Homo sapiens: one gene and its partners. The protein of the gene in region 1 purifies or fractionates together with the protein of each later gene. This does not show direct contact. Each region holds a gene or a part of one and is shown in the gene's direction. Other genes may lie near its edges.

What was found.
Region 2: the proteins of PRKD2 (region 1) and LIG1 purify together in Homo sapiens (affinity purification with mass spectrometry, with the first as the bait; one large-scale study listed by BioGRID). This does not show direct contact.
Region 3: the proteins of PRKD2 (region 1) and DCDC2C purify together in Homo sapiens (affinity purification with mass spectrometry, with the first as the bait; one large-scale study listed by BioGRID). This does not show direct contact.
Region 4: the proteins of PRKD2 (region 1) and MYO10 purify together in Homo sapiens (affinity purification with mass spectrometry, with the first as the bait; one large-scale study listed by BioGRID). This does not show direct contact.
Region 5: the proteins of PRKD2 (region 1) and LRRC27 purify together in Homo sapiens (affinity purification with mass spectrometry, with the first as the bait; one large-scale study listed by BioGRID). This does not show direct contact.
Region 6: the proteins of PRKD2 (region 1) and ZDBF2 purify together in Homo sapiens (affinity purification with mass spectrometry, with the first as the bait; one large-scale study listed by BioGRID). This does not show direct contact.
Region 7: the proteins of PRKD2 (region 1) and ABCC2 purify together in Homo sapiens (affinity purification with mass spectrometry, with the first as the bait; one large-scale study listed by BioGRID). This does not show direct contact.

Annotation. Positions count from the first base shown.
Region 1 is NC_000019.10:46,699,979-46,704,172, reverse strand, and holds part of PRKD2 (serine/threonine-protein kinase D2), read left to right. Parts: coding exon 1-4; intron 5-3,060; coding exon 3,061-3,138; intron 3,139-3,220; coding exon 3,221-3,374; intron 3,375-4,194.
Region 2 is NC_000019.10:48,135,708-48,139,901, reverse strand, and holds part of LIG1 (DNA ligase 1), read left to right. Parts: intron 1-2,213; coding exon 2,214-2,380; intron 2,381-2,817; coding exon 2,818-2,894; intron 2,895-3,776; coding exon 3,777-3,868; intron 3,869-4,122; coding exon 4,123-4,194.
Region 3 is NC_000002.12:3,842,911-3,847,104, forward strand, and holds part of DCDC2C (doublecortin domain-containing protein 2C), read left to right. Parts: intron 1-1,098; coding exon of another isoform or gene 1,099-1,107; exon of another isoform or gene 1,108-1,160; coding exon of another isoform or gene 1,161-1,184; exon of another isoform or gene 1,185-1,766; intron 1,767-4,194.
Region 4 is NC_000005.10:16,666,787-16,670,980, reverse strand, and holds part of MYO10 (unconventional myosin-X), read left to right. Parts: intron 1-2; coding exon 3-455; intron 456-2,512; coding exon 2,513-2,704; intron 2,705-4,187; coding exon 4,188-4,194. UniProt on the Homo sapiens protein: Myosins are actin-based motor molecules with ATPase activity. Unconventional myosins serve in intracellular movements. MYO10 binds to actin filaments and actin bundles and functions as a plus end-directed motor.
Region 5 is NC_000010.11:132,330,117-132,335,009, forward strand, and holds the start of LRRC27 (leucine-rich repeat-containing protein 27), read left to right. Parts: upstream 1-2,076; 5' UTR 2,077-2,140; exon of another isoform or gene 2,141-2,990; intron 2,991-3,360; 5' UTR 3,361-3,408; coding exon 3,409-3,618; intron 3,619-4,893. Other genes in the region: STK32C (serine/threonine-protein kinase 32C), read right to left, coding at 1,320-1,620.
Region 6 is NC_000002.12:206,305,134-206,309,327, forward strand, and holds part of ZDBF2 (DBF4-type zinc finger-containing protein 2), read left to right. Parts: coding exon 1-4,194.
Region 7 is NC_000010.11:99,830,759-99,834,952, forward strand, and holds part of ABCC2 (ATP-binding cassette sub-family C member 2), read left to right. Parts: coding exon 1-93; intron 94-852; coding exon 853-1,072; intron 1,073-1,218; coding exon 1,219-1,373; intron 1,374-3,621; coding exon 3,622-3,777; intron 3,778-4,194. UniProt on the Homo sapiens protein: ATP-dependent transporter of the ATP-binding cassette (ABC) family that binds and hydrolyzes ATP to enable active transport of various substrates including many drugs, toxicants and endogenous compound across cell membranes.

The DNA of each region.
Region 1 (4,194 bases):
AAAGGTTAGCTGGGCCTGTCGGGGAGGACAGACAGGGTCAGAACCTCCTTCCCGCCCCAACCTGGTCTTGTGGCAGGACACAAGGATCTGAGCCTTGGGACCCCAGGGCCTCAGAAGGGGAGGGCCCTGAATCCTAGTGTTCTGGGACCTTTGGAATTCTGGAATCTTAGAACCTCAGTTGTGTGTGTGTGTGTGTGTGTGTGTGTGTGTGTGTTGTTGTTGTTTTTTGGAGACAGGGTGTCACTCTATCACCCAGGCTGGAGTGCAGTGGCGCAATCACGGCTCACTGCAGCTTCAACCTCCTGGGTTCAAGTGATCCTCCTGCCTCAGCCTCCCAAGTAGCTAGGACTACAGGTGGTGCCACCACACCCAGCTAATTTTCTTTTCTTTTTTTTTTTTTTGAGACGGAGTCTCACTCTGTCGCCCAGGCTGGAGTGCAGTGGTGTGATCTCGGCTCACTGCAAACTCTGCCTCCTGGGATCAGGACATTCTCCTGCCTCAGCCTCCTGAGTAGCTGGGACTACAGGCGCCCGCCACCATGCCTGGCTAATTTTTTTGTATTTTTAGTAGAGACGGGGTTTCACCATGTTAGCTAGGATGGTCTCGATCTCCTGACCTTGTGATCCACCTGCCTCGACCTCCCAAAATGCCGGGATTACAGGCGTGAGCCACCGCGCCTGGCCACACCCAGCTAATTTTTAAATCATTTGTAGAGAGAAGGTATCACTATATTGTTCAGGCTGGTCTTGAACTCCTGGGCTCAAGCAATCCTCCTACCTCGGCCTCCCAAAGTGCTGGGATTACAGGTGTGAGCCACCGCGCCCAGCTGAACCTCAGTCTTTAGAACCTTGGAATCCTAGATTCATAACGTGCTTAGCATGGAATTCTAAAACTGTAGAACCTGAGAATTCTAGAATCAGAACCATAGCATTCAAGAATTCCGAATGATAGAATTCAGCTAAAATAACAACAGAACTTTAGATTACACATCTTAGATCTCCCAAGTTATAGACTCTCAGAGCATGAGAATTTTGGAACCATGGGATTTGAGGGTAATAGAAACATAGGCACATCAAATTTGAGAGTCTTAGACGTCTAGAATCATATAAGCTTGAAACCATCGTAACCTAGAATCCTGGAAATTCTAGACTCCCAGAACTTTGAACAATCAAATTCTAGAATCCAGCCAGGTGTGGTGGCTCATGCATGTAATCTCAGCACTTTGGGAGGCCAAGGTAGGTGGATCACTTGAGCCTAGGAGTTTAAGACCAGCCTGGGCAACATGGTGAAACCCTGTCTCTACAAAAAAAATTAAAAATTAGCCAGGCATGGCAGCATGCATCTGTGGTTCCAGCTACTTGGGACTCTGAGGAGGGAGGATTGCTTGAGCCCAGGAGGTTGAGGCTGCAGTGAGCCATGATTGTGCCACTGCATTCCAGCCTGGGTGACAGAGCAAGAACTTGTCTCAAAAAAAGAAAAAAAAAAATTCTAGAACCTCAGAAGCCTAGATCCACATAAACTTAGAAACATCCAATTCAAGAATTTACTGGAACAATCAAATTCTAGAATCTTAGAAGCCTAGAGCTAAAGAAGCATAGAAACATCAAATTCTAGAATCTTGTATGTATAGAATCCTAGAACCTTGGAATCTGCAGATTCTGGAGGTAGAGAAGCCTAGAATTGTAGAACCCTAGAACTGTCAAATTTTAGAGTTTAGATATATAACACCCTAAAATCTTGGACATTAAAGAGTCTTAGAAGTGTTGACTCATAGATGTCTAGAGTTCTAGAAACTTGGACATCAAACTCTGAAGCCTTAGAAATACGGAATCAGGTCAGGGGCAGTAGCTCACACCTGTAATCCCAGCACTTTGGGAGGCTTAGGTGGGTGGATTGCTTGAGCCCAGGAGTTCAAGACCAGCTTGTACAACATGGAAAGACCCCATCTCTACAAAAAATACGAAAAATTAGCCAGGCATGGTAGTGCGTGCCTGTAGTTTCAGCTACTCAGGAGGCTGAGGTGGGAAGATCGCTTGAGCCTGGGAGGCAGAGGTTGCAGTGAGCCGAGATGGTGCCATTGCACACTCTAGTCTGGGTGACAGCCAGACTGTTTCTTAAAAAAAAAAAAAAAAAACAAAAAACAGAATCATAGAACCTTCATAAAATAGGTTTTTAGTAAACTCTAGAATCTTCGATGTATAGTGTCCCTAGAACCGTGGAAACACTGAACTCTACAGCAATGGTTCTCGACCAGGGGCCGTTTTGCTCCTAGGGGATGTTTGGCAAGGGTTGGAGATGGTTTTGTTTGGTACGCTGGGATAGTGCTACTGGCATCCAGTAGGTAGAAGTCAGAGATGCAGCTAAACATCCTACAATACACAGAGCAAGTGCCCTAAAACAAGGAATTATCCTGGGCACTGTGTTAGTGTCACGGGTTGAGGAACCCAGCCCTAGGGTGTTCAGAGTCTGGAGTCACAGCACATTAGAACCAATAACACACACACACACACACACACACAAGTCGGGCGCGGTGGCTCACGCCTGTAATCCCAGCACTTTTAGGAGGCCAAGGCAGGTGGATCATCTGAGGTCAGGAGCGCGAAACCAGCCTGACCAACATGGCGAAACCCCGTCTCTACTAAAAACACAAAAAAATCAGCTGGGCGTGGTAGTGGGCGCCTGTAGTCCCACGCCCAGCTAATTTTTGTATTTTTAGTAGAGACGAGGTTTTACCATGTAGGGCAGGCTGGTTTCGAACTCCTGACCTCAAATGATCTGCTCTCCCCGGCCTCCCAAAATACCGAGATTACAGGCGGGAGCCACTGCACCCAGCAGTCGTCGGGATTTTGAGTCTAGCCCTCCTACTTAATCAAGACCCCCCCGATGGTTGGGAAAACTGTGGCTGAAAGTGGGAAAATGACCAGGGCAGCAGCAGCCAGTGTTCTTACCCAGACAGCAAGAGTAGACTCTTTTGAGCCTGAGGCTTAGGGTCAAGGTTCAAGCCTTCCAGGTAACCTCTCTTCCCCTTCTCACCCGTTCCCTTGTTCCCTGTCCTACCAGACTGCAAGTTTAACTGTCACAAACGCTGCGCCACCCGCGTCCCTAATGACTGCCTGGGGGAGGCCCTTATCAATGGAGGTGAGAGGCTGGGGGGATGCTGGGGAGAAAGGGGAAGGGGCAGGACTGGGTGGAGACCCCTCTGATGCCTCCGTCCCCACAGATGTGCCGATGGAGGAGGCCACCGATTTCAGCGAGGCTGACAAGAGCGCCCTCATGGATGAGTCAGAGGACTCCGGTGTCATCCCTGGCTCCCACTCAGAGAATGCGCTCCACGCCAGTGAGGAGGAGGAAGGCGAGGGAGGCAAGGCCCAGAGGTATACACAGAACCCTCCAAGAGACCCTGGGGGAAGACCCTCCTGCACAGTGAACCTCAATTTCTTTTTCTCTACAATGGGCTGACATCACCTCATATTTATAAATTTTCCCAGTTCCTGAGGCAAACCTTTTAAAGCACTACAATTTTTTTTAAATAATTTTTTGTTTGAGACAGGGTCTCGGTCTGTCGCCCAGGCTGGTGCAGTGGTGCAGTCTTGACTCACTGCAGCCTCGACCACCTGGGCTCAAGCGATCCTGCCACCTTAGCCTCTCGAGTAGCTGGGACCACAGGCTCGTCCACCACACCCAGCTAATTTTTGTATTTCTGTAGAGACAGGGTCTACCCTATGTTGCCCAGGCTGGTCTTGAACTCCTGACTCCTGAGCTCAAGTGATCCACCCGCCTCAGCCTCCCAAAGGGTCTTGCTTTGTTGCCCACTGGAGTGCAGTGGTGTGATTGTGGCTCACTGTAACCTCAAACTCCTGGGCTCAGGTGATCCTCCTGCCTCAGCCTCCCGAGTATCTGGGACTACAGGGATGCACTGCTATCCCTGGCTAATTTTAGACGGCGTTTCGCTCTTGTTGCCCAGGCTGGAGTGCAGTGATGCAATTTCAGTTCATTGCAACCTCTGTCTCCTGGGTTCAAGCGATTCTCCTGCCTCAGCCTCCCAAGTAGCTGGGACTACAGGCACCCGCCCAGGCCCAGCTACTTTTTTTGTATTTTTAGTAGAGACAGGGTTTTGCCATGTTGGTCAGGCTGGTCTTGAACTCCCAACCTCAGGTAATCCACCTGCCTCGGCCTCCCAAAGTGCTGGGATTA
Region 2 (4,194 bases), 1.4 Mb from region 1:
GGATCGGAGAGATGGTGGAGAGAGGCTGTGAAACAGGGTTGAGGAGAAGGCTGAGAGGGAGGAGAGCCTGATGGGGACAGATTTGCAGGGGTGTGGGAGAGAACACAGGGGCAGCAGTTCAGGTGAGGGAGGACCAGGCATGTGCTGGGACAGGGGGTGTGGGGTGCAGGGAAGGGGAGGGCTGGGGAAAGATGCTGGAGGCAGAGACAGCAGGATTTGGGGGCTGAGATGGAAGGTTGGGGCTTAGAGAGGTCTGAAAGGACTTTGACTGGAGGGATTGGAAGGAGTGGGAGGAAAGAACATGGTGTGTGGGGGGCCAGCAGCCTGAAGGGGCCCAGCCGCCAGTGCTGGGTGGAAAGGCTGGTGATGCGGATGGCCCGCCTGCCAAGGGCCTGGAGTGCTCGGTGCTTATCATGAGGACACTGGGGAGCCATGGAAGGATTGTGAGCAGGCAAGGGGCAGCATCCAGGGGGAAGAGGAGCTGGACCCCAGCTGTAGAGAAGAGAGAAGAGGGCAGGAGAGATCTGGCAGACAGTGGATGTCAGGGTGAGGAGGCAGGAGGAATGCCTCCAGGATCTCCCTGGGTGACTGGATGGATGACAAAGCCGTCGGCAGCTTGGGACCCTGGTGAGGGGCAGGCACCTGCAGGGGGCATTAATCACCCCAGCGTGGGGCAGGCATGAGCAACCTCTATCTGTGGGCCCCCAGGGCCATCCAGGAAGTTTGGAAACGGGTCTGAGGCTCACCAGGTCTGGCTCAGAGCCCAGGGTTCGGGCTGGTCAGTGTAGGAGGGATGACCACCCACTGGTGGGTTCTCATCCGCCTGGGGAGAGGATGTGCTGGGAGCACTGGAGCTGGCTTAGGGCCATGGGCACCAACATTTAGGGAAGGCAGGGGTTTCAGGCTTTCATGAGAGGACAGAGGGACTGAGAAAGGTTGACTTGGATCAGGAAAGAGTTACGGGCTTATGGGAGCCAGAGGAGATGAGACTCAAGATTTTCTCACTCATTCACTCAAGATGTGTTTCGGGAGCACTGACGTCATACCAGACCCAGCACACACGGGGTCGGTTAAGAATACTCTGAGCTGCAGGTAACAGAAAACCCAACTACATTGGCTTGGACAAAGAAGGATCTGTTTTTCTCACAAAAGAAGTTGCAGATGCTGGCTTTCCTGCCCAACAATCCATGGCAGCTGGGGCCTCTTCCACTGTCTCATGCCTCCACCCTTGATGGGTCGTGTTCACACTCACACTGCTCTCCGTGCCGCCTTGTGGCCCCCGTGGCTGTCCAAGTCCCGGGTTTGTTGTGAGTTGTTGGCCACTTTGGAGAATCCCGTCCCCTTTGATGTGTGATTCGATAACATCCCATTGGTGAGGCTCACACTGTCGGCTCTCCCATTTGTGGCAGTTTCGCTTCAGGCGCGAGGCCCACCTTCATGTGCTCTGTGCCGCGGCTGAGCATCTGTGGACTGAAACGCGCACTTGTTCGTTCATTACGGATTGCTTTCCCTTTCATTCTTTTCTGTGTTAGGGTTAGGGCGTTATCTCGATAGGTGTAGGCAGGTTATGTTATCTCCACATTTTATTTCAGACCAGAAAAGAGGTGACACACAGTATCTGGTGACAAGGGTGTGTTGGTTCTGATAGGTTGAGAGCTGCTTGTCACAGCTGTCACCGTGACTTGAGGCTCCATCTCCCCAGCTCTTACACCCAGGCGCCCATGGGACCCAGCTCTGGACAGTAAGTGGGGCCAGAGCACATCCCACGTGTGTAAGCTGGTGGCTCCAAAACAAGCCGAAGGGTCTTTGGTCACTGCCAGAGATGTTCATGACCCGCCAGAGGAAAGGGTCCCTTGGCCTTCTCTGCTCTGTCCACACTCACTTCCCTAGTGACCTTGTCCCGCCTGTGGCTTTAAATCCCATCCGCGCCCTGATGACACCGGCCCAGATGTCTCCCCTGAGTGTGGTCATGCTCGTTCATCCACCGCTTTCCTGGCTCCACGTGCATGTTTGCTGACTTCCTACAGCCAGCGTGGCTGGGGGCACGTTCCCCAAGCCATTTCTACCAAGTGGGTGAGCGTTAGACACAGGGAGGTGCAGGGACTCGCCACAAGCACACACAGCTGGAGAAAATTCATCCAGGCCGCGAGAGAAGGGAGACACGCAGCCACAACTGTCACCCTCGACACCCCCACCCGCGCTCTCCCCTGAAGGTCGGCAGCTGGAGTCCGTCCGGGCTGAGGCAGCCGAGAAAGGCGACGTGGGGCTGGTGGCCGAGAACAGCCGCAGCACCCAGAGGCTCATGCTGCCACCACCTCCGCTCACTGCCTCCGGGGTCTTCAGCAAGTTCCGCGACATCGCCAGGCTCACTGGCAGTGCTGTGAGTGGGGCGGGCCGCTCATCCCGGACCCCAGACATCTTGGGGACCTGAGGCCACGCGTGTGTCAGGAAGGCTTCTGGGTAGACCATCAGCTGGGTCGCATCAGTCCTTCTCATGGGGTGCACAGCTTCCTCTCCTCCTTCCTGCACCCAATCCTAGGGGAGTCTCCTCTTCAGAGTCTAGCAGACCTAATGCCATGGCTGCCACATGACAGGACTCAGTAAATACTTCCTGGATAAAGGGAGAGGGAGGCAAGGAGGAGAGCTAGCTCGTTCTTACTGCCCTAAGAGTGGGCGGCCATGGGAGCTGGGACATGGGGATGGGGTGAGGGAAGGAGGGCAGGTATTCCAAAATGCAGGGCAGCAGCACGGCTGGTGGGGTGGAGGTGTGGTCCCTGCCTTCACCAGGCACTGACGGCTCTTCCCCTGACTCTCCAGTCCACAGCCAAGAAGATAGACATCATCAAAGGCCTCTTTGTGGCCTGCCGCCACTCAGAAGCCCGGTTCATCGCTAGGTAAGCGTGTGGGCCTGTGAGGCTACAGAGGGGGACTGCAGGCTCGGAGGTGAAAGGAGGGAGGGACTGGCAGCTGGAATCATCACAAATGCCCTGACCATCCTTGGATGAGAAAAGCATGAGCAGGAGGCCCAGCCCCTAAAGAGTGGGAAGGGACACCATTTCCTTTCACAGGCCAGCTTCTGTCCCTTGGTAGTGCTGTCTAGAGAAGGCCCCTGGGCCCCTGTGGGTGAAGCATGCTGTGATTGATTGGTGAGGTCTGCCTCGGCTTGGGCGCGGGCCCTGCAGCAGGAAGCCAGGGTTTGTTTGCCATGACAGTGAGAGCAAATCCATTGAGGGCTCACATCATGGAGCATTTCTTGGGAGCCCTGCCCTGTGCCCCGTGCCTTACCTCATCAGTTCCTACCAGCAACTCTGTGAGACTGGTCTTGTTACCCTCACCTCCAGTTTATAGAAGGGGAAATGGAGACATGGGGAGGCAAACTAAGCCACTTGTCTCCTGCCACTGGCTCAAAGCAAGGACCATGCTGGGGTCCTGACCATTACAGTCACCAGGGCGGGCGCCAGGCTCAGTTCTCTCCCTGACTCATCCTCCTCAAGCCTCGCCAACCCCTCAGGGCAGCTGAGATGGGAGGTGCTGGTGCACCTACTTGTGCCCCTCCCCAGTCTATGCTAGTGGGCAGGATCATTACTGCCTGGCTCAGTTTCCTCATCTGTCACATGGGGCTGTGTGATATCTGGGGTCCCTTCCAGGCTCTGAAGATTCTTCTGGTTTTTGAGGAGAGGGTCTACATACATCAAGGTCGAGGAGATCAGAGAAGGGAGGAGGCAAGATTGGGGAGGTGCAGACAAGCCCCCTTCCCTGGCCTGCTCTCTCCCCAGGTCCCTGAGCGGACGGCTGCGCCTTGGGCTGGCAGAGCAGTCGGTGCTGGCTGCCCTCTCCCAGGCAGTGAGCCTCACGCCCCCGGGCCAAGGTGAGCTCCTGTGGCCCGTCTCTGCATCCCTCGCTGGAGTTACCTCAGGCTTCCCCCCTCCTCTTCAGAGGCCCATGCCCGCCCCTTCCCCAGCGGGCCCCTGCCATACCAGGCTCCTCTCTCCTGGGTGGGGGGGAGGGGGCGTCTTGGGCCGCGGCATCTGCATTCCTTGCCATACAGCAAACCACCCACTGCACCCTGGTGTAGCCAAGGATGTGGGTGCCTTCCAAAGCCTCTGGTGGGTCTTTTCTTAGAATTCCCACCAGCCATGGTGGATGCTGGGAAGGGCAAGACAGCAGAGGCCAGAAAGACGTGGCTGGAGGAGC
Region 3 (4,194 bases), on another chromosome or scaffold:
TCTGAACTAGTTGCCTGGCCCCGTTTAGCTGTTCTCTGTCTGGTAACACAGTCTCGGGCAGGTCCACATCTTTGGTGGTCACCTGGCCATTGTCGCCATGCCCTCGTCTGTCAATGTAAGGATTTTGGTCTTTATCCTGTAGGTAATGCTAAAGCAGGGAGATGATGTGATCAAATTTATGTTTCTAAGAAGTGGCTGTGATAGCAGGGGGAGAAGGGAAAGGGATGAGAGTATTATGTGTGTGCATCGTATTCTCTCTTTCAGGTGTGGAGTCCTGGACCCAGGCAGGGGTGGGACCCAGGGACCCAGACAGGAAGTGACAGATTCCTGGGAGTGGACAAAATGGACCGCGCTGGGCCACAAAGTGGATATGGGTGGCGAGAATGAAATTGGAGTTGAGGTTTCTGGTTTGGGTCTACGCGTTACTTCTGAAAACAAGGGGATGAGCAGGTTTTGGGGAAGGCAGTGTGTGAATGTGCCGAGTTCTCCACGTCAGCTGAGCGACCTGGCCCCTCTCAGGCTCTGCAAGGCTTCTCGCTGAAGACCTCTTTTCAAGTGTTATTTCAAATGGTTTTGTTTTCAGTTTTCAGGAGCATCTTTTTAATTTCCTCTGCCAAATGGCATTCATCCCCATAGGAAAGGTAATGTTAGCATCAGGAAATGTAGTTTGGCCGGTGAAAGGTTGATTGCTATGGGGTATTCTTCCTGAGCTCCGAAAGTTGGTTCTAATGTGTTGGGGTCTACTGTGAAGGGCATGGCCTCTGGATTCTCCTGCACTCTGATTTCTTTCTTTTTCATTTTACTAAAAATGCCTTTTCTGTTTCACTAACTCAGAAAGAGCAAGAATCTTCCCTGTGACTTTTCAATTTTTAAATGACTAATGGAATGTGTCTGTGTAATTAGCATTTGGTAACACACCTTTGATTCTAGCTTCTCTGATGGTACCTCATCATATTTTATGCTTGTTTGAGATAATGCATGCAAAAACACATTGCACTTGTAATACCCTATGTGAAAAGTATTTTTGTTAGTATTATCACTGTCACTACTAAGTCAATGATATAGCAGCAATGTTTGTCTTTTTATGATTTATTTCAGTTGACTTAGGTGGCTACTAGATTTATTGGTGATTTTGTTTTATTTTATTTACTGAAAACAAGAAAAAGAATCATATGACATTCTAGAGGAAGAAAATACACCTGTACTACTAGAAACCCCAGTAGAAATAGAAGCCCACAGAGAACCACCGATGGGACAATCACAAGAAAAATCATCACTAAGACAAGAAGAATAAACACCTGAGGAACAAGAGTCCTCTGAGCAGCCATGCCTGGGACAGCCACACTGAGAGCAGCCACCTGAGATGCCAGAGTCCCCCACGCAGCCATGCCTGGGACAGCCACACCCAGAGCGGCCACCTGAGACGCCGGAGTCCCCCACACAGCTGTCCTCAGGACAGCCACACCGAGAGCAGCCACCTGAGATGCCGGAGTCCCCCACGCAGCCGTCCTCAGGACAGTCATGCCAAGAGCAGCCACCTGAGACGCCAGAGTTGCCCATGTAGCCATGCCTGGCACAACCGTCTCAGAAACACATGATTAAGGGGTAACAAAACAACAAACACCATGAGAACAAAATGTGAACCATGTTGTGAAGAAACAGTCAAAAACTAGAAAGGATAGCAAGACAAATGAAAATAAAAGCGGACATTTTTTCACATTATACTAAAGAGGTATGCTGGTGGAATATTAAAATCATGAATTTCATATTTTGGTGGCAAGACTTTAAGTTTTTAAACACATGTTGTAAGCCGAAATTCATGTGGAATTCCTTCCTCTATTCCCTAACTGTGCAAGTCTGGGAGGGAAGAGGGTTGTTAGCGAGACTGGGTGAATCATTGCCCGCTGGGGCCGACCTTCCCTTCTTACACTGTCAACCCACACTTGGCATTCTAGAGTGACTTAGCCACTTTGCGAACGGCACATGTTTACATAGTTATCTCTAACATGTTCTCCCTTTTTAAAAGCGAATTAAGGCATATTATAATAATTATACATACCTATTTTTATCTATACACAACACACGCATCTATGTACATGCATTTGCCGATATAGGTATATATATGCCTTCTATGTCCTAAATGGACAGTAGAATCCTATGTACATTTTTGGTGGCTAAGCGAATGGACTCTCAACTCAATATACAGTTTTGGCTTCTCTCCTCTTTAAGGGTATGCACGAGGTCTGTGGCTCAGTTTAGAGCTAATAATAATAACGAACTCACAGGCTGTTGGGAAAATTACTTACCATAAGCAGAACCGTGCTGGACACACAAAAGGCACTAAGAAATGTTGGCGACTCCAGTTACTCCATTTGGGTAGTTGTCTTTTTGTTTCTGTTACCAAGCGAGAGAAGACAGGCAGAGTCACTACTAAGATGAGGCCTGCACTTGACTCCAGGTTGGCTGAGCTTCTTGACGGTTAGCACAAAGATGGCAATGGTGATTCTAGGATGGTCCAAGTCCTCTTAAAGATCAGACCAGTTTCACACCATCTGCCAATTAGTGGTATATACAGTGTTGCACATGGAAGGAGGAAGAAAAGCTATGATTTCACCATATTTGGGCTTCTTGATTTGTTGTTAGACTTGACTAGAACACTCGTAACACTTTAAGGGGGACATTTGTAATCAAATAGGAACCATTGCCATCTCATCCTGAGCAATTTTTAGTTAAGTTTCTGCTAGAGAGCACATCTACTTTGATTTGGCTCCATTCTAAGTATATGTCTTAGTGCAGGAAAAAGAACTTTGAAACTGCATTTCTAATTACTTTCGTTGGTGACTTCTTTTCCAGCTGCCCTAGTGCCTGTGATTTAGACCAGCAAGCTGCTGTGGAAGGAATGGATTAGGGCTAAGAGAACCAGGCCCTGGTCTGTGCTCCACCATTTGTTGACCACAGGGTCTTGAACAATTTCCTTTTCCTCCCTGAACATTAGTTGTCTTCTGTAAAATGAGAATGATAGTAGGATCATAGTTTGTTAGAGCTGGAAGCAAATTTAGAGATCACAGAATTCCCAACAGACATTCTACTGTGAGGTACCTGTAGGGGTTAGGTGGCTGGCCTGAAGTCACATGAGACCTGTAGCTTGGAGGGAGCAGGGACGGGACTGGAACTCATGTTTTTCTTTCCCTCCTTCCTTCCTTTCTCCCTCCTTCCCTCCTCGTCCTCTTCTTCCTCCTCCTCCTCCTACTTCTTCTTCGTCATCTTCTTCCTTCTTCTTTCTTCCCCACCCCCGTCCTCCTGTTCTTCCCTCTTCTTCTCTCCTCCCCACTCTTCCTCCCCCACTCCCTTCTTCTCCTCCTTTTCATCCTCCTCCTCCTTGTTCTTGTGACAGGGTCTCACTCTGTCGCTCAGGCTGGAGTGCAGTGCCACAATGACAGTCTCAAGCATCCTCCCACCTCAGCCTCCCGTGTAGCTGAGACTACAGGCATGAGCCACCACGTCTGGCTACTTTTCTTTTTTTTGGAGAGAGGGAGTCTTACTATGTTGCCCAGGCTTCTTCTTTTATAAAATTTGATTTCAGGTCTATTATAGTACTCTATCTTCCTTAGTATAGAATTGTTGTATGAATCAAATGGAATTAAACACTCTGAACATTTTACTAGAGGTAAAGGAGATTCATTTTACTTAATGGATACATAATTTAAAAAATTTAAAATGTCGCCTCTAGATGATGTTCACATTTTGGGGCTTAGTTTTAGAGTGGTCTTGGTACTAGGAGGATGGCTTAAATAGCTCTTCAAGAGAGTTATTCAGCACCACGTTTGAACCAAATGATCCAGATTCAAACATTGCTATAGACTCAGCACATTCAATGCTGGTTGGTCAGGATGGGGGCTGTGGAGTGAGAAGGGGGAGAAGATGAAGGAAGGGGCAGAGGAATGTGAAGCGTTGTTTTAGATAAACTGAAATGGAGTGGCCACCAGCACTGCACAAAAGCTAATTTTGAAATCAGTGTCCAGGTTTCCTGCGGCGGTTCTGCACGGCGGCATGTTGCCGTTGGGTGTGCCGTGAGGAGCTGTGTGTGCTGCAGGTCCCAGGTCCCACCCCACCCCTCCCAGGAACAACACCCAGAATCCAGAATCCAACAGAAATGCAAGCTCCTGAGAGAACCAGAAACAAACTGTGGCCAGA
Region 4 (4,194 bases), on another chromosome or scaffold:
AGGCCCACGAAGCGGTTATCCATGGCCACCATCCAGCCCCGGAAGAAAACCTCCAGGTTCTTGCTGCCCTGCGACTCCAGTATCTGCAGGGGGATTATACTCTGCACGCTGCCATCCCACCTCTCGAAGAGGTTTATTCCCTGCAGAGACTCAAGGCCCGCATCAGCCAGTCAACCAAAACCTTCACCCCTTGTGAACGGCTGGAGAAGAGGCGGACGAGCTTCCTAGAGGGGACCCTGAGGCGGAGCTTCCGGACAGGATCCGTGGTCCGGCAGAAGGTCGAGGAGGAGCAGATGCTGGACATGTGGATTAAGGAAGAAGTCTCCTCTGCTCGAGCCAGTATCATTGACAAGTGGAGGAAATTTCAGGGAATGAACCAGGAACAGGCCATGGCCAAGTACATGGCCTTGATCAAGGAGTGGCCTGGCTATGGCTCGACGCTGTTTGATGTGGAGGTGAGAACTGGCTGCCGTGTGTTGGGGTGGGCTGGGTGCTGGCATCTGAGAACATGGATCACGGCCAAGTTCATGTGGAGAGAAGACAAGATGGAGCATTTTGCTCTCTCAACCTCTTTTATTCGAGCCCCCAGAATTGTACCATTAACGCCTCCCTTCTCCTCACAGTTTCTCTTCTCCTGTGTAGTAAACACATCTGTAATATTAGGAATGAATGCAAAATTAAGATGTCATCTATTCTTCTACCCTTCCTTAGGGAAGCTATAGATCTAATTTTTTAAACACTGATAAAAATCTACATTTAAAAAAATGTTATAGCTGTATATACAAATTAGAAACTTTGGATATACTTGCATTTTACTTTGTTTTTTCTTTACAGCCATCTGTTTGAAAGGAAGAATGTCTATCTCGTAATGGAATTTAGCCATTGGCATCAACCCAGTACTGATTTTTGTTTTGTTTTAAGTAGACCGCTTATTGAAAAGAAATCTTACTAATTGTCTAGATGAGAGTTTGGCAAACTGGTCTGTGGGTCAGATCTTGCCTGCCTCCTTTTTTCTAAACAAAGTTTTATTGGAACACAGCCAAGCTCATTCCTTTAGATATATTCCCTGGCTGTTTTTGTACAGAGTTGAGTAGTTGTGACAGAGACCATGTGATCCACAAAGTCTAAAAATCTTTACTATGCAGCCCTTAACAGATAAGTGTGCCAGCTCATCGTCTAGATTAGCTTCCATTTTTTATGATCACAGTAATTCAGCGTATATCTGATGACTTTATATTGAGGCTGTATAAAATTCTAAATATTATAAATTCTAGAATCCGTGGGTGGCTTTTCATTAGGTGATGTTTTTGATTGGTTTGGTTGGTTCAATTATGCCTGTTTTTAAGTATAAAAAAATCAGGTGCTTTGTACAAAGCCATAATTCCATTTCTCCCTGACAAGGAATAGATAATAGCAGTTAAACTCTTGGCTTCCTGCAAAACGTGAGCTGTGAATTAGCATAGAAAGCTACTGGCTTGGCCGGGCGCGGTGGCTCATGCCTGTAATCCCAGCGCTTTGGGAGGCCAAGGCGGGCGGATCATGAGGTCAGGAGATCGAGACCATCCTGGCTAACACGGTGAAACCCCATCTCTGCAAAAAATTAGCTGGGCGTGGTGGCATGCACCTGTAATCCCAGCTACTCGAGAGGCTGAGACAGGAGAATCGCTTGAACTCAGGAGGTGGAGGTTGCAGTGAGCCAGGATCACGCCACTGCACTCCAGCCTGGGCGACAGAGTGAGACTCCGTCAAAAAAAAAAAGAAAAAAGAAAGCTACTGGCTTTTGCATGGAGGATGCAGAGAATGTCTGGTTATTAGGGATATAAACTAGAGACTCTTTTCAGCGTCTCCAATTTATAGCCCTCCTGCTTGTCCAGGTTTGGATCAGCCCTGTGTTGTTAGCCCCTTCATATGGGGTCTTATTTTCTTCCACCAATCTGTACAGGAAAGTCTACAGTTAAACTGGTAAAGTCCCTGTTCCCACTCTGCATATGGAAGGCCATTGCTGCTCCTTGTGAAGAGGAGCCAGAACTGCTCAGCATGCGTGATTTGGAGAATTTTCCTCTGTGATCCTAGATTTTGTATTTGAAGACTAACCATCCGCAAAGAGGATTGGAGGCAGAACTGGAGATATTAATACAAGAGTAGACTTGGCTTGGGTTGCAGGGAAGCTTCCTTAAGTCCCCCGGCCAAGCATGTACGTTTCCAGGCCACTTCCACGTAGCTAATCCAAACAGCTAGTAGAATAATGCTGAGAAGTGGAGAGTCAAAGCAAGATGTTAGACTCTGCCAGTTAGTGAGGTTTTCCCAAAAGCGTGAGATTAACTAGTTAGAAATCAAGATAGCCAGAGAGGTGCCATTTTTCATATTTCAGGCCCCTCCATGCATGCATGCACATCGAATATATTTAATCTTCTGCACAGAGGACTTCACTCAAAGCCTGTCTTATGGTTTAGATGCTTTCTGTTGCCAACCACTTCATGACTTAACTCTTCTGTTGACTCTTGCCCACCAGTGCAAGGAAGGTGGCTTCCCTCAGGAACTCTGGTTGGGTGTCAGCGCGGACGCCGTCTCCGTCTACAAGCGTGGAGAGGGAAGACCACTGGAAGTCTTCCAGTATGAACACATCCTCTCTTTTGGGGCACCCCTGGCGAATACGTATAAGATCGTGGTCGATGAGAGGGAGCTGCTCTTTGAAACCAGTGAGGTAAGAGGCAAAGCAAGTTCATCTTTTTATTCATGGTCTTGACAAAACAGAAAAACAGGACCCCATTTCCTCATGCCTTTGACCAGGTCATTTTCTTTGAATATTTTTCTTCAAAACACGAAAATACAGTGTGGTGGTCCCTTTCCAGCTGCCGGTTCCCTGCAGGCCAAAATCTGAGATCACCATATTTTTTTTGTATACTTTTGCAACAGAGGAATCTGGTTCCATTTTGCCAAGGAGTCTTACCCTTGGAGGAAAGGCAGAGAAAGGGAAGTGACATAGATGTCCCTGAAAAAGTATATTATTTGCAACAAAACCTTATGAAAATTAGTTAGCAATTATAGCGGTGTCACAGCTGTGAGACTCGGCTCTGGTGGCCTCTTGAGACCAGGAGGGAGCCGGGAGCATGACCATCCTGGGTGCAGCTCATTCTGGATTGTGAAACCACACACACTAAAAGGCCTCTAAATATATGTGCTACCAGCCTCCAAGTTTAAAAAATATAATACAAGAAGCTTATTGAGGCTTCCACAAAGGGAACAGCTAGCAAGTCAACGTGGTGAGTGGAGAGGAATCACCTGCTGCCTGGTTTGGAATGGAGAGGCATTGAGGAGGGCGTTCCAGCTGCTTGGAGGATGTGGCATTGTAGGTTCCCTAGGCTGATGGGGAGTCGTGCAGTGAGAGGGAAGAGGGTGGAGAGCCCTTGACTCAAGGGTCCCAGGTGCCAGGCTGCAGGATTTGGTGAGATCCAGTAGACAACAAGGAACCACTGTGGGATCTTTGATTGTGCATGGCATAACAGTGAATTTACAGACAGTGATCTCTGGGGTGGGACTGGAAGGGAAGAGAGCAAACAGGGATATGGAAGCCGGTTATGATGCCTGCACAGGGATCCAGGCCAGCTGTGAGAAGGGGTGGCAATGACGGGGACATCATGGGAGGGAGCTAATGGAGATCCCAGCTGGAGGAGGTGGCTGGTGTGGAGCAGAAGCTGGCCTGGCGTCTGGGGAGCTGGCCGCTCTCCCAGCCCCTGGGGCCTCAGTTATCTTGTTTCTTCAGCTGCTTCCTAAGGAGTTGACTAGAATTAGATGATCCAGTCTTTAAAGGCTGTAATTGTGGACTCTGTCATTTCACATTTATTTTAAGCGGGGATAGTAATCCCAGCACTGTTGACACCGAGTAACTTCAGCGTCCTCGGTTAGTTCTGGATTTTAATGTGCAAAGTCTGACAGTTTCCATCAAGCCAAGTTGGCACGTTTGTGCCACCAGGTGGTGCACATTGTATTTGGAAAAGCTGAGATTCCACCTTTCCCTGATGAGGAAGGTGAAAGTGGTTAAACTTCTGGCTTCCTGCAAAATGGGATCCGTCGATTAGCATGGAAGGCTACGGGAGGGTGCCCAGGGAATGTCTGGATTATTAGGCAGGGCCCTTTGCCTGGGGGAGACTTGTGACGCTGTGTCGGTTCTGCTTCCCCCTGGGCAGGTGGTGG
Region 5 (4,893 bases), on another chromosome or scaffold:
CTTGCCAAAAGGCTACCAATGGATACAATCTGGCTGGGCAAAAACTGAGCACAGTAAAGGGCAAAACATGCTCGTACATACAATTAACTACTGACTACAAAAATTAATGTAGCATGAAAAATGTGAAACAAAAACCTGAGGCAACAATAACAAGCAAGAGGGAATACGCTCAAATGGTTAGTAAATGTTTTATTTGTGAAAAGAGATACTGGAATGCTGAAACTTGTTAGAAATAGCATCGTGCTGAAATCTTCCATCCCCTTCGCCACTCACGGCAACACCCATGTCACTCCTCATTCTCTCCTTGCTCTGCCCGGGTGGCTGGCCTCCCCACGCTCCTGAGAAGGTACTGGTTGTGCTTTCAGCTTCCTGATTGGTAGATAGTTGGGTATGTACGAAAACTTTTTTTTTGAGACAGGGTCTCGCTGTCACCGAAGCTGACATTAAGTGGCACAATCATAACTCACTGCAGCCTCAAAATCCTAGGTTCAAGCGATCCTCTTGCCTCACCCTCCCACACAGCTGGAACTACAGGTGTGTGCCACCACACCCAGCATTTTTTTTTTTTTTTTTTTTTAATTTTTGTAGAGACTGGGTTGCCCAGGCTGGTCTCCAACTCCTGGCCTCAAGCGATCTTCCCACCCTGGCCTCCCAAAGTGCTAGGGTTACAGGCGTGAGCCATCGTGTCCGGCCTAAAAAACATTTCTTACTGTGATCTCTTCACAAAAATAAAACGTAAATCCCCTCAAAGTGGATAGTCGTTTCTCCACATAATTATGTCGTTTCCTTTAAAAAGTGGAATCAGGCCGGGCACGGTGGCTCATGCCTGTAATCCCAGCACTTTGGGAGGCCGAGGGGGGCGGATCATGAGGTCAGGAGATCGAGACCAGCCTGGCCAACATGATGAAACCCCGTCTCTACTAAAAATACAAAAATTAGCTGGACGTGGTGGCGCGCGCCTGTAGTCCCAGCTACTGGGGAGGCTGAGGCAGGAGAATTGCTTGAACCTGGGAGGCGGAGGTCGCAGTGGGCCGAGATCGCGCTACTGCACTCCAGCCTGGGAGACAAAGCAAGACTCCACCTCAAAAAAAAAAAAAAAAAAAAAAAAGTGAAATCATGGCAGACTCCAGCTAAACTGTCCGGGTTTCCAGAGTGTTTCTGGGTGGGACAGAGGGTGCTACTTTTCATTATCAGTTGGATCCTGGAATGAAGGTGCACGGGACTCCAGGGTTCCACAGGACCACGCGAGCACCTCCCCTCCCGCCCGGTGTCATTTCATCTTCTTCCAAATTCTCAAAACCCTTCCTCAGGACACTCACTGCGTTTCCTCGCCCCCCTCACTCCTCCGTCCAGAGGCAGCCTTACTTCTCCAAAGAGGACGCTCTGAGTCTGCGTTCCCCTGGCAGCAAGTCCTGAGGCAAGATTTGGGGACAAGCAGCTCCTGTGGGAAGTGGCTCCAGGAAGCCCCAGGAGAGACGCGGGGAGTGAGCCCAGCGGGAAGGACAGGCAGCGAGGACCGCTCCAAAGGTGGTGCCTCAGCAGCAATTCTTTTCTGCTCGGCTGTCCTCGAGCAGCCCCGCCCGCCCCGGGCCCTCCGGCTCCCCAGACGGCACTTAGCATCCCGCTCTCTTCCTTCCCCTCTGTGCCAGGCCGGTCGCCCCTCCAGACCCTCGCGGTCTCTACTTGCCCGTCGACCACCACCCCTTCAAGGCCGCGGGCGCGGAAAAACGGATGCTACCGTTGGCCGCGTGCGTGCGCAGGCGCACCACCCCCTGCCACCCCCGCGCAGGCGCACCACAACCCCCCCACCGCAAGCGCAACCCCCCGCCCCAGCGCAGGCGCACCACACCCCGCCCCCTCCCGGGCAGGCGCACCACACCCGACCCCCTGCCGCGCAGGGGCACCCACACCCCGCCCCCGCACGCAGGCACAAACCCCCACAACACGCACACCCCCGCGCGCAGGCGCACCACACCCCTCGCGCAGGCGCATCACAGACACACTCGCGCTCAGCGTGGCGCCTGCGGGATTCCGTACCGGCGTCTCCATGGCGACCGCGTTGGCTGGGTGGCCTCCATTGTCGGGCTGCTGCTCTCAGCGGCGGGGCTCGCCAGCGCTTCAGTGGGCGGGGACGCGGCAGGTGAGACGGGGCGGGTACGGCCAGCTCGCTGAGCCCTCGAGGCGGGCGGCGGCAGGAAGGTGGTGCCTCGGCCCGTCGTGCCCTGTCGCCTAGCTCCAGCCGCGATGCTGACCGCAAAGGCTGCCCTTCTGAGGCCTGGAATGTGAGGCCCAGAGCGTCGGACCCAACTCAGCCTCGCCCGGATGGGGAAATCGAGGCAGGGAGCGGGGGTGGGCGTGCGTGGGGATCCCTTGAAGGCAGCCTCGGAAACCCCACGGAGCCTGCGCTGCCTGGGCCCTGTGTGAGTCCAGGCTGTTGTTTCACTTCTGGTTTTAAGATACTTTCCCTGTTCTGAGGTTTGAAGCCTCCCCTCCTCTGTTTTAAGTTCCGTGATTCGGAGAAAACAAGTGAACTGACCGTGAAAAAGCCCGCGGGCTTCCATGGAATGCAGGCTGCCTGGGGTTGAACCCTGCTGGGTCCCGGTGTCGCCTCTACCCCCCAATTAACTGCGCCCCTGGAACAGTTCCCTAACTGATCTGCGCCTCATATGCCAATCATTGGGCTGTTGAGTGACTTGAATTAGGTGAACTGATGCATTCCAACGTTGATTCTTATTGCCGAATAAATTGTTTGGAAATTGCAAGTGGAAGTGTGCCTCGCTGAATGAGATTTTGGTGAACAATACTTCTGAGTAAAAGTGTTGCTGGACAACGAAAATTCGAGATTAATTTAACAGGTTTTTCCCCGGTGCTTAACTGGGTGTAAGCCAGACTTAGTTCTGGTCACTGGGTCAAAATGGTAAACAAAAGACAGGCTTCCTGGCCTCAAGAAACTAAAAACATAGTTCAAATGGCACAGAACCACACCAGAGGTAAGAAACAGTGCAAATTTCCACCCGCCCCTAGTCATTTCATGGAAGCGTTGCAGTTGATTTACAGGCTTTGAAATGTTCCGATCTGTTTACATCCCTAAAATGATCATTACTATTGTGCGCCTTTGCGTTTTCCAGGAGTTAAATCTTGGAACTCCATTGTACAAAGTGAGAGCAGAGAATTTTAATCTGAACCTCTTTGTATTCCTTTTTTTTTTTTTTACATGTTTAAAAGTCAAATTTTTGCTACTGCTTAGGAAAAATGATAGCTTTTAAAGCAAGTTACATTACAGTAGATCTGCCACACAGCTATTCTGTTTTGCCTCGGTATAATTAGTTGCTTCTACGTTTCCCTTTCCCGTGTCTCCAGGTGACTCCAGACCAAGGAGGATGAGCTGCTGTCCCTGGAAGAGAACGGATGGAGGGAAGCAGCTCCTACGAAGTTCCCTCTGTGGCTGCTGCTGATCTGGAGGAGGGTGCTGGTCAGACTAGGAGCTTGCCTGCCACCCCCTCCAAAGATGTTCACAAGGGTGTTGGAGGCATCATCTTTTCCTCCTCACCGATTTTAGACTTGAGTGAAAGTGGTCTGTGCCGTTTGGAGGAGGTCTTTAGAATCCCCAGCCTTCAAGTAAGTGGGGCTGCTCCTCAGGCTGTGTGCCCACAGGTCCCCTATAGACAGAAATGGGAATGTACCCCTGGGCTTTATTTGTAGGCTTCTTTCTCTTTGGAATTGATGAATTCTAAAATTAAATAGAGGAAAGGTTAACTCATAGTTTCATACGCCAATCACAACAAAATGGGAAATTCATGATGGGGACCAACCAATGGAAATAGTACATCTATTTAGATGAAGGTGTCTGTTCTCTTCCTTGCAGTTCATCTCTCAAAACCTGTGGTAGAAACTACTGCCAAACACGCTTGGTCTCTTAATTAAAACACAAAACCTTAAAGAAAATCAGGCAACATGAGCAGTTAAAAACTTTGTTCTCACCCATGATTTTGCTCATGTTACACACTGGTTTTACTTTGTGCCCGGCCCTTCTCCGGGTCAGTCCGCAGTAGATGCTGTCTTGTCCATGTGATTTCTAGAGAAAGCTTCTGTGAGGGCACAGGTTTGATGTTAGACAGTTGAGGGTTCCCCCTGCAGCACTTGTCCCTGCTGGGACTCACAGAATTTCCTTAAACCTCATTTGGTTTAATCTGGAATGTCGGAATGATCATGTTTTCACATCATTTATTGTGAAAATGAATAATGTGAAAGTTCAGTGTCTGGAACATAGTTATGATATTGATTGACTTTCTTTTTGTATTTTTAGTAGAGATGGGGTTTCACCATGTTGCCCAGGCTGATCTTGAATGCCTGAGATCAGGTGATCTGCCTGTCTCAGCTTCCCAAAGTGCTGGAATTACAGGTGTAAGCCACCGCACCTGGCCAGATTGACATTTTTGAGTGCTTCTACAAGAGCTACATATTTAGATTTTTAGTGGCTGCTTAAGTTATAAACTCTACATTTGCATTGTCTTTGCTGTCACGGCAGCGCTGGTCTTGCTCTTTCTTTCCTTCATGCTGACATCTAGGGTGAGGCACTGGTCACAGGGACCTGCCTTGTCCTGGCTCCTGTTACACAGGTGTCACTTTTAATGAACAGATATCCTCAGCCCTGAATAAGGGATCCAGCAGAGCCCTGAGGTTTCTGTTACCTTTATGCACAAAGGGAGAAGGAGGAAATTCCAGAGGTCTTCAGGCTTGATGAAGAAACTTGATAACTGTTTATACCTTTCAGAAGACAAATGTCAGTATAAATTTTATTACCATGGCATAGAGTCTTTAAATGTGGTAATCAGAGTGGTAGACTTTCTGCCGCTGTGGCTGCAGTCTCTAAAGTCATAAACAGCACTTCCA
Region 6 (4,194 bases), on another chromosome or scaffold:
TAATACAACTAGTTTACCACCAGCAGCTCATTTGGATTCAGTTAGCAAATGTGACCCAAACAAAGTTGAGAAATATCTTGAACAGCCAGATGGGGCCTCTAGAAATCCTGTGCCATCATCCCATGTAGAAACTACTTCATTTTCGTATCAGAAACATAAAGAATCAAATAGGAAATCTTTACGCATGAATTCAGATAAGTTGGTTTTGTGGAAAGATGTAAAATCTCAGGGTAAAACTTTATCAGCTGGCTTGAAATTCCATGAACGCATGGGTACTAAGGGCTCCTTAAGAGTTAAATCTCCTTCCAAATTAGCAGTAAACCCGAATAAAACTGACATGCCTTCTAATAAAGGAATCTTTGAAGATACTATTGCAAAGAACCATGAGGAATTCTTTTCTAACATGGATTGTACCCAAGAAGAAAAGCATTTGGTTTTTAACAAGACAGCCTTTTGGGAACAGAAGTGCTCAGTGAGTTCTGAAATGAAGTTTGATTGTATCTCTCTTCAGTCAGCATCTGATCAGCCCCAAGAGACTGCACAAGACTTAAGTCTTTGGAAGGAGGAGCAAATTGACCAAGAAGATAACTATGAGTCTAGAGGTTCAGAAATGAGTTTTGATTGCAGTTCCTCTTTTCATTCACTGACTGACCAATCTAAAGTGAGTGCCAAAGAAGTAAACCTTTCCAAGGAAGTACGTACTGATGTACAGTATAAGAATAATAAATCTTATGTTTCTAAAATAAGTTCTGATTGTGATGACATTCTTCACTTGGTTACCAACCAATCCCAAATGATTGTTAAAGAAATAAGTCTTCAGAATGCAAGGCATATTAGCCTGGTTGACCAAAGCTATGAATCTAGTAGTTCTGAAACGAATTTTGATTGTGATGCTTCACCTCAGTCCACTAGTGACTACCCCCAACAATCTGTAACAGAAGTAAACCTTCCTAAGGAAGTGCACATTGGTTTGGTTGATAAGAACTATGGTTCCAGTAGCTCTGAAGTAAGTGCTGATTCTGTTTTCCCACTGCAGTCAGTGGTTGACAGACCCCCAGTGGCTGTCACAGAAACAAAACTTCGGAAGAAGGCTCATACCAGCTTGGTTGATAACTATGGATCGAGTTGTTCTGAAACAAGTTTTGATTGTGATGTTTCTCTTGAGTCAGTAGTTGATCATCCCCAACTGACTGTCAAAGGAAGAAACCTGAAAGGTAGACAAGTCCACCTAAAACATAAGAAGCGTAAACCCAGTAGTGCTAAAGCACATCTTGATTGTGATGTCTCACTTGGGACAGTTGCAGATGAATCCCAGAGGGCTGTTGAAAAGATAAATCTTCTGAAGGAGAAGAATGCTGACCTTATGGATATGAACTGTGAATCCCATGGTCCTGAAATGGGTTTTCAGGCTGATGCTCAATTAGCTGACCAGTCTCAAGTAGCCGAAATAGAGCGTCAGAAAGTGGATGTTGACCTTGAGAATAAGAGTGTTCAGTCTAGCCGTTCTTCTCTGAGTTCTGATTCTCCGGCTTCTCTTTATCATTCAGCTCATGATGAGCCTCAAGAAGCTTTGGATGAAGTAAATCTTAAAGAGTTAAATATTGACATGGAAGTTAGGAGCTATGATTGCTCCAGCTCTGAGTTGACTTTTGATTCTGACCCGCCTCTTCTGTCAGTTACTGAGCAGTCTCATCTGGATGCTGAAGGAAAAGAACGGCACATTGACCTGGAAGATGAGAGCTGTGAGTCAGATAGTTCTGAAATAACTTTTGATTCTGATATTCCTCTTTATTCAGTAATTGACCAACCTGAAGTAGCTGTTTATGAGGAAGAAACTGTTGATCTGGAAAGTAAAAGTAATGAATCTTGTGTCTCTGAAATAACTTTTGATTCTGATATTCCTCTTCATTCAGGAAATGATCACCCTGAAGTAGCTGTTAAAGAAGTAATTCAGAAAGAAGAGTACATTCACTTAGAAAGGAAGAATGATGAACCCAGTGGTTCTGAAATAAGTTCGGATTCCCATGCCCCTCTTCATTCAGTGACTAATTCTCCCGAAGTAGCTGTTAAAAAGCTAAATCCTCAAAAAGAAGAGCAGGTACACTTAGAAAATAAGGAAAATGAACCTATTGATTCTGAAGTAAGTTTGGATTATAATATCATTTTTCATTCAGTGACTGGACGTTCTGAAGATCCCATTAAAGAAATAAGCCTTCACACAAAAGAGCACATGTACTTAGAAAATAAGAGTGTTTTTGAAACAAGTTTGGATTCTGATGTCCCTCTTCAGGCAGCGACTCACAAACCTGAAGTAATTGTCAAAGAAACATGGCTTCAAAGAGAAAAGCACGCTGAATTCCAAGGTAGAAGTACTGAATTCAGTGGTTCAAAAACAAGTTTAGATTCTGGTGTCCCTCATTATTCAGTAACTGAACCTCAAGTAGCTGTTAACAAAATAAACAGAAAGAAGCAATATGTTCTAGAAAACAAGAATGATAAATGTAGTGGTTCTGAAATAATTTTGGATTCTAATGTTCCACCTCAGTCAATGACTGACCAACCTCAACTAGCTTTTTTGAAGGAAAAACATGTTAATCTGAAGGACAAAAACAGTAAATCAGGTGATTCTAAAATAACTTTTGATTCTGAACAACTTCAGGAAGCGGTTAAAAAAATAGACCAATGGAAGGAAGAGGTTATTGGCCTGAAAAATAAGATTAATGAACCTAGTACTTATAAATTAATACATCATCCTGATGTTTCTGTCCAATCTGTGGCTGATCAACCCAAAGTAGCTATTAAACATGTGAACCTTGGGAATGAAAACCATATGTACTTGGAAGTTAAGAACAGCCAATATAGTTGTTCAGAAATGAATTTGGATTCTGGTTTCTTGGGTCAGTCAATAGTCAATCGACCTCAAATAACTATTTTGGAGCAGGAGCACATTGAACTAGAAGGTAAGCACAATCAATGTTGTGGTTCTGAAGTAAGTTTTGATTCTGATGACCCTCTTCAGTCAGTGGCTGACCGGCTGAGAGAAACCGTTAAAGAAATAAGCCTTTGGAAGGATGAAGAAGTTGACACGGAAGATAGGAGAAATGAAGCTAAGGGTTTTGAAATTATGTATGATTCTGATGTTCTTCAGCCAGTGGCTGGCCAACCTGAAGAAGTAGTTAAGGAGGTCAGTCTTTGGAAAGAGCATGTTGACTTGGAAAATAAGATTGTCAAACCTACAGATTCCAGAATAAATTTTGATTCTCATGAACCCCTTCAGTCCGTAACTAATAAAATTCCAGGGGCGAATAAAGAAATAAATCTTTTGAGGGAGGAACATGTTTGTCTGGATGATAAGGGCTATGTGCCCAGTGATTCTGAAATAATTTATGTTTCAAATATCCCTCTTCAGTCAGTGATAAAACAACCACACATTTTGGAAGAGGAGCATGCCAGTCTGGAAGATAAGAGCAGTAATTCTTATAGTCCTGAAGAAAGTTCTGATTCCAATGACTCTTTTCAGGCAGCAGCAGATGAGCTTCAAAAACCTGTCAAAGAAATAAATCTTTGGAAGGAAGACCATATTTACCTGGAAGATAAGAGCTATAAATTAGGTGATTTTGATGTAAGTTATGCTTCTCATATTCCTGTTCAGTTTGTGACTGATCAATCTTCTGTACCTGTCAAAGAAATAAACTTGCAAAAGAAGGATCATAATGATCTAGAAAATAAGAACTGTGAAGTCTGTGGTTCTGAAATAAAATGTCATTCTTGTGTTCATCTTCAGTCAGAAGTTGACCAACCTCAAGTGTCTTACAAAGAGGCAGACCTTCAGAAGGAAGAGCATGTTGTCATGGAAGAAAAGACCGATCAACCTAGTGATTCAGAAATGATGTATGATTCTGATGTTCCTTTTCAAATAGTAGTTAACCAATTTCCAGGATCAGTCAAAGAAACCCACCTTCCAAAGGTGGTACTTGTGGATCTGGTGCCCGGTGATAGTGATTATGAAGTAATTTCAGATGATATTCCCCTTCAGTTAGTGACTGACCCACCTCAGTTGACTGTCAAAGATATCAGCTGTATAAATACAGAATGTATTGATATAGAAGATAAGAGCTGTGACTTTTTTGGTTCTGAAGTCAGATGTAATTGTAAAGCCTCTACTCCCTCAATGACAAACCAATGCAAAGAGAC
Region 7 (4,194 bases), on another chromosome or scaffold:
TTGAAAACTCGGAATGTGAATAGCCTGAAGGAAGACGAAGAACTAGTGAAAGGACAAAAACTAATTAAGAAGGAATTCATAGAAACTGGAAAGGTGAACACCACACAGAAAAGTAGCATTTGAGGTGTTATAAGGTTTAGAACCCAAAATTTTTAACGTTCAGTGAAAATTGAACGCATACTTACAGGAGCAATATGTCCTCTGTCCTTTGCAAATCTTCAGACTCATTATTAACCTGTTAGCAGAGGCTGTGGGCTTTCTACCAAGTCATATTTCCATAAAGAATGCTATGTTTCCTGTGAATGTCCTCATCCTACACTTCATGAGTGTTTGATTCCATTCTGATGTGTGGAGGAACAGGAAAACTCAGACCTAGAGCACATAATTCAAATTAATGAAATTTAACCACAAATTTCAAGGTCGGCAGTAGAACCCCATCATCTGTTCCACTCTGATTTTTTGTTTGTGTGTTTATTTTAGATACAGGGTCTCACTATGTTGCCCAGGCTGGACTAAAACCTCAGGGCTCAAGAGATCCTCCCACACCAGCCTTCTGAGTAGCTGGGACTACAGGGGCATGCTATCATGTCTGGCTTGTCCCAATCTGTTTTTATATCTTCTCCTCTTAAATGCCTTTAGCTTTGATGATTATTTACCCTGCATTGTATTTCAGCATTGTTCTATTATCCTTCCTGGCACAGTGCAGAAATGGTGACCACAGACTACCAAATTTTGCTACCTGCTACCCATGCTCCCAGGGGACTCCACTTCTCCTTGTGGTTGGCATTCTAGGTGATTCCTTATCAAAAGCCATTAGGGAGTTCTACTAATATTGAGGTGGGGACTTTGCAGGTGAAGTTCTCCATCTACCTGGAGTACCTACAAGCAATAGGATTGTTTTCGATATTCTTCATCATCCTTGCGTTTGTGATGAATTCTGTGGCTTTTATTGGATCCAACCTCTGGCTCAGTGCTTGGACCAGTGACTCTAAAATCTTCAATAGCACCGACTATCCAGCATCTCAGAGGGACATGAGAGTTGGAGTCTACGGAGCTCTGGGATTAGCCCAAGGTATGTCTGATGGCTATGACATCTTACAGAATCTGTCTGGACCCTGTACTTTTCCTGGACTCAGGAATGCATTTGCCATTATGTCCTGGGCACAAGTCTTCAGGGATTCCTGTGCATGGTGCTGACAAAACTGCTTCCATCTCTAGGTATATTTGTGTTCATAGCACATTTCTGGAGTGCCTTTGGTTTCGTCCATGCATCAAATATCTTGCACAAGCAACTGCTGAACAATATCCTTCGAGCACCTATGAGATTTTTTGACACAACACCCACAGGCCGGATTGTGAACAGGTTTGCCGGCGTAAGTATCTCAAGAACTGTCAGGTGGTGTGTTTATATACTGAGGATCTTTCTGATAGGGAGGAATTATTATGTCCCCCTAGACAACACTGTTCAGTTCCAGTTCTTTTGTCACTCAACATGCAAGTGTTTCTTGAGTACCTGCTGTGAGCTCCCAAGAATCCTGGAGATTGAGGGATGAACATCTCTGACCCTTCAAGTAGCTCAGCATCTAGTGAAGAAGACAACCAAAGAAGTGAAGGATTATAATAGAATATAGTAAAACCAGTAACAGCAGTGTGTAGAAAGGTGGTCTGGGAGTACAAAGGAAAAAAAGGCACTAGCCCAGCCTGCGTGATAAAGGTGGGAAATGTCAGAAAAGGTGAAACTTAAGTCATAGAAGCAAGCCAGGGAGATGGCAAGGGTTGGGGGATGGCAGTAGAGCAGGGTGAGAAGGATTATTCTGCAGAGGAAGGAACATAAATAAAAGCACTGTCACAGCCTGGGACAGGAAATACAAGAGATAGTAGGATAACCCTTTGCTTGGCCTCTGCCTCCATTCCTGAAACTTCTATCTTGAATGCTTTAAGAATGAGTAAATTTGGTCTGGACTATGGAATAGAGCCATCAGTGATTTTAAAAAGTTCTCAAATATTGTTTCCATCTACCACAGATCCTGGACCCCTTGGCATTCACTCATTCATTCATTCAACAACCGTTATTGAGCACTTTCTATGAGCCAACTACTGTACTAGACACTGGGGCACTCAATGAATGTGAAGATCATAGATGTCTCTCTTCCATGGGCCAGACCCAACTCACTGATTTTTTAGTGTATCTGAGATGGGAATTCAGGAACAGAGGCAGAGATCAGGCAATTCTGAATGATAAGTAACTATCACCAGCACAGTTTTTAGCCCTGTGCTTATGGAGCAGCTCTGGACTCTTGTTTGTTGGTCTTGGGGCAGACATAGAAAGTATAGCTCACAGTCCACAGCCAGGTTCTGGGGACACAGTAACTGCTTCAAAAGTGGGCCATTAACTGGTCCCCCTGTGTCATCTTCCTCTGGGGCAGAAACAGTGGGCATGATGTCACTAGAGACAACTTCAATGGCCTTTCTGCTCTTTACTAGAACCTAAAAGAACACTCAATTTTGGGTGAGAAATTTCTCATAGTAATTTTGTAAAGATCACAGTTTTCCCCATGTTGTAATATATATAATCTTCTGGGAAAGAGAACACAGAGGTTTTCTGTGAGTTACTTAGGCAACAGTCATAGTTTGAAGACTGCTTTTGCATGAGAAAGGAAACTGTCATTAATTATATAGTATGTTTCGTTGGGGAGGTGGCTCAGACCTATTAAGGGGAGTTTGATCAAGGGGCCTCTGGGATCAATGGCTGAGTTAAGAGGAGATGGAGTGGAGGAAGGAAAGATGGAGACTCTGTGCCAGGTAAGGATCAAAAGTAATCTGCATAGAACTGATAACTGGTAGGGATTTCTTTTCTCTGCCAACTGTGGGTATAGTTATTTGCATTCTGATAGGACTTTGGGAAAGGTAGGTTAGACTCAGGAGTCATCCATGATTCAGAGCTTTCCTGGAAGACCATTATCCCTGATACAGTTTGAGAAATTCCAGAGATAACTTAAACTCACTTTGGTACTCACATATTACCAATCATAGAATCAATATAATCCCCACAAATTTAGGCAAGGGCAACCCAAAATATAAACCAAGCTTCTTGAGTGTTCTCCAAACCATCCATCCATTCATTCATTTTTCTTATTTGTTCATTTATTTCACATGACACGAAGGCAACATGGCAGTAAGACACATCTGTTCCCGCTGGGTTCCTTGGTTAGAACACTGTCCAGGCAGGCTCACATTCAACCCCAGCTCCCTTCCCCTTGGTCCTCTATGCTTAGCAGAGGAAGCAACTTCCTGAGTATTTTTAGTAGAGATGGGATTTCACCATGTTGGTCAGGCTGGTCTTGAACTCCCGATCTCAGGTGATCCACCCGCCTCGGCCTTGCAAAGTGCTGGGATTACAGGTGTGACCACCACGCCAGGCCTAAATGAAGAAATTATGGAAATGAAATTGGTTATTGGGGCAAGCAATGCAGCCTATTGCAAATGAACACAATGAAATGATTACATGAAGGAGTACTGGGAACACACAGAATCCAACAGATTCCTTGCTAGAACTAGGAAGATGTAAACTATCTTAGGAAGACCTCAGTGATGGTGTATCTCTCCTAATCGTTTTCCTAGGATATTTCCACAGTGGATGACACCCTGCCTCAGTCCTTGCGCAGCTGGATTACATGCTTCCTGGGGATAATCAGCACCCTTGTCATGATCTGCATGGCCACTCCTGTCTTCACCATCATCGTCATTCCTCTTGGCATTATTTATGTATCTGTTCAGGTAGGTTTGGAAATGGCTAAGTCATCCTTCCTTCCTCTCTATCTATAAAAGCCCAGCCTCTTTCCTGAGAATCTTCTCTCTGATTCATTGCTAGTCACTCACTCCTCCCCTCAGCAGCTTTGCCATTTAGTCATATGTTGACATACCCAGGAGCCCACAGGCCACTGTCTGAAGCTGAAGTGAGAGCATCAATGGGTGCACCATTTATGGCAAATGTCACCCTAACTGCTGCCCACCCTTCACTCCCTGGAAGCTTAGGTCGGACAGATTTACGTTTGGATCCAAGACTACTTTGAGATTGGCTCTGGACACAGTCTTGCAGCTCCATAAGAACCCCCATGACGATTAGGTCGGTTCCAGAAGAGCCATGCTATGGTGCTTCCTTGGTTGACTTTGGACAGGCATAGCTGCTTGGAG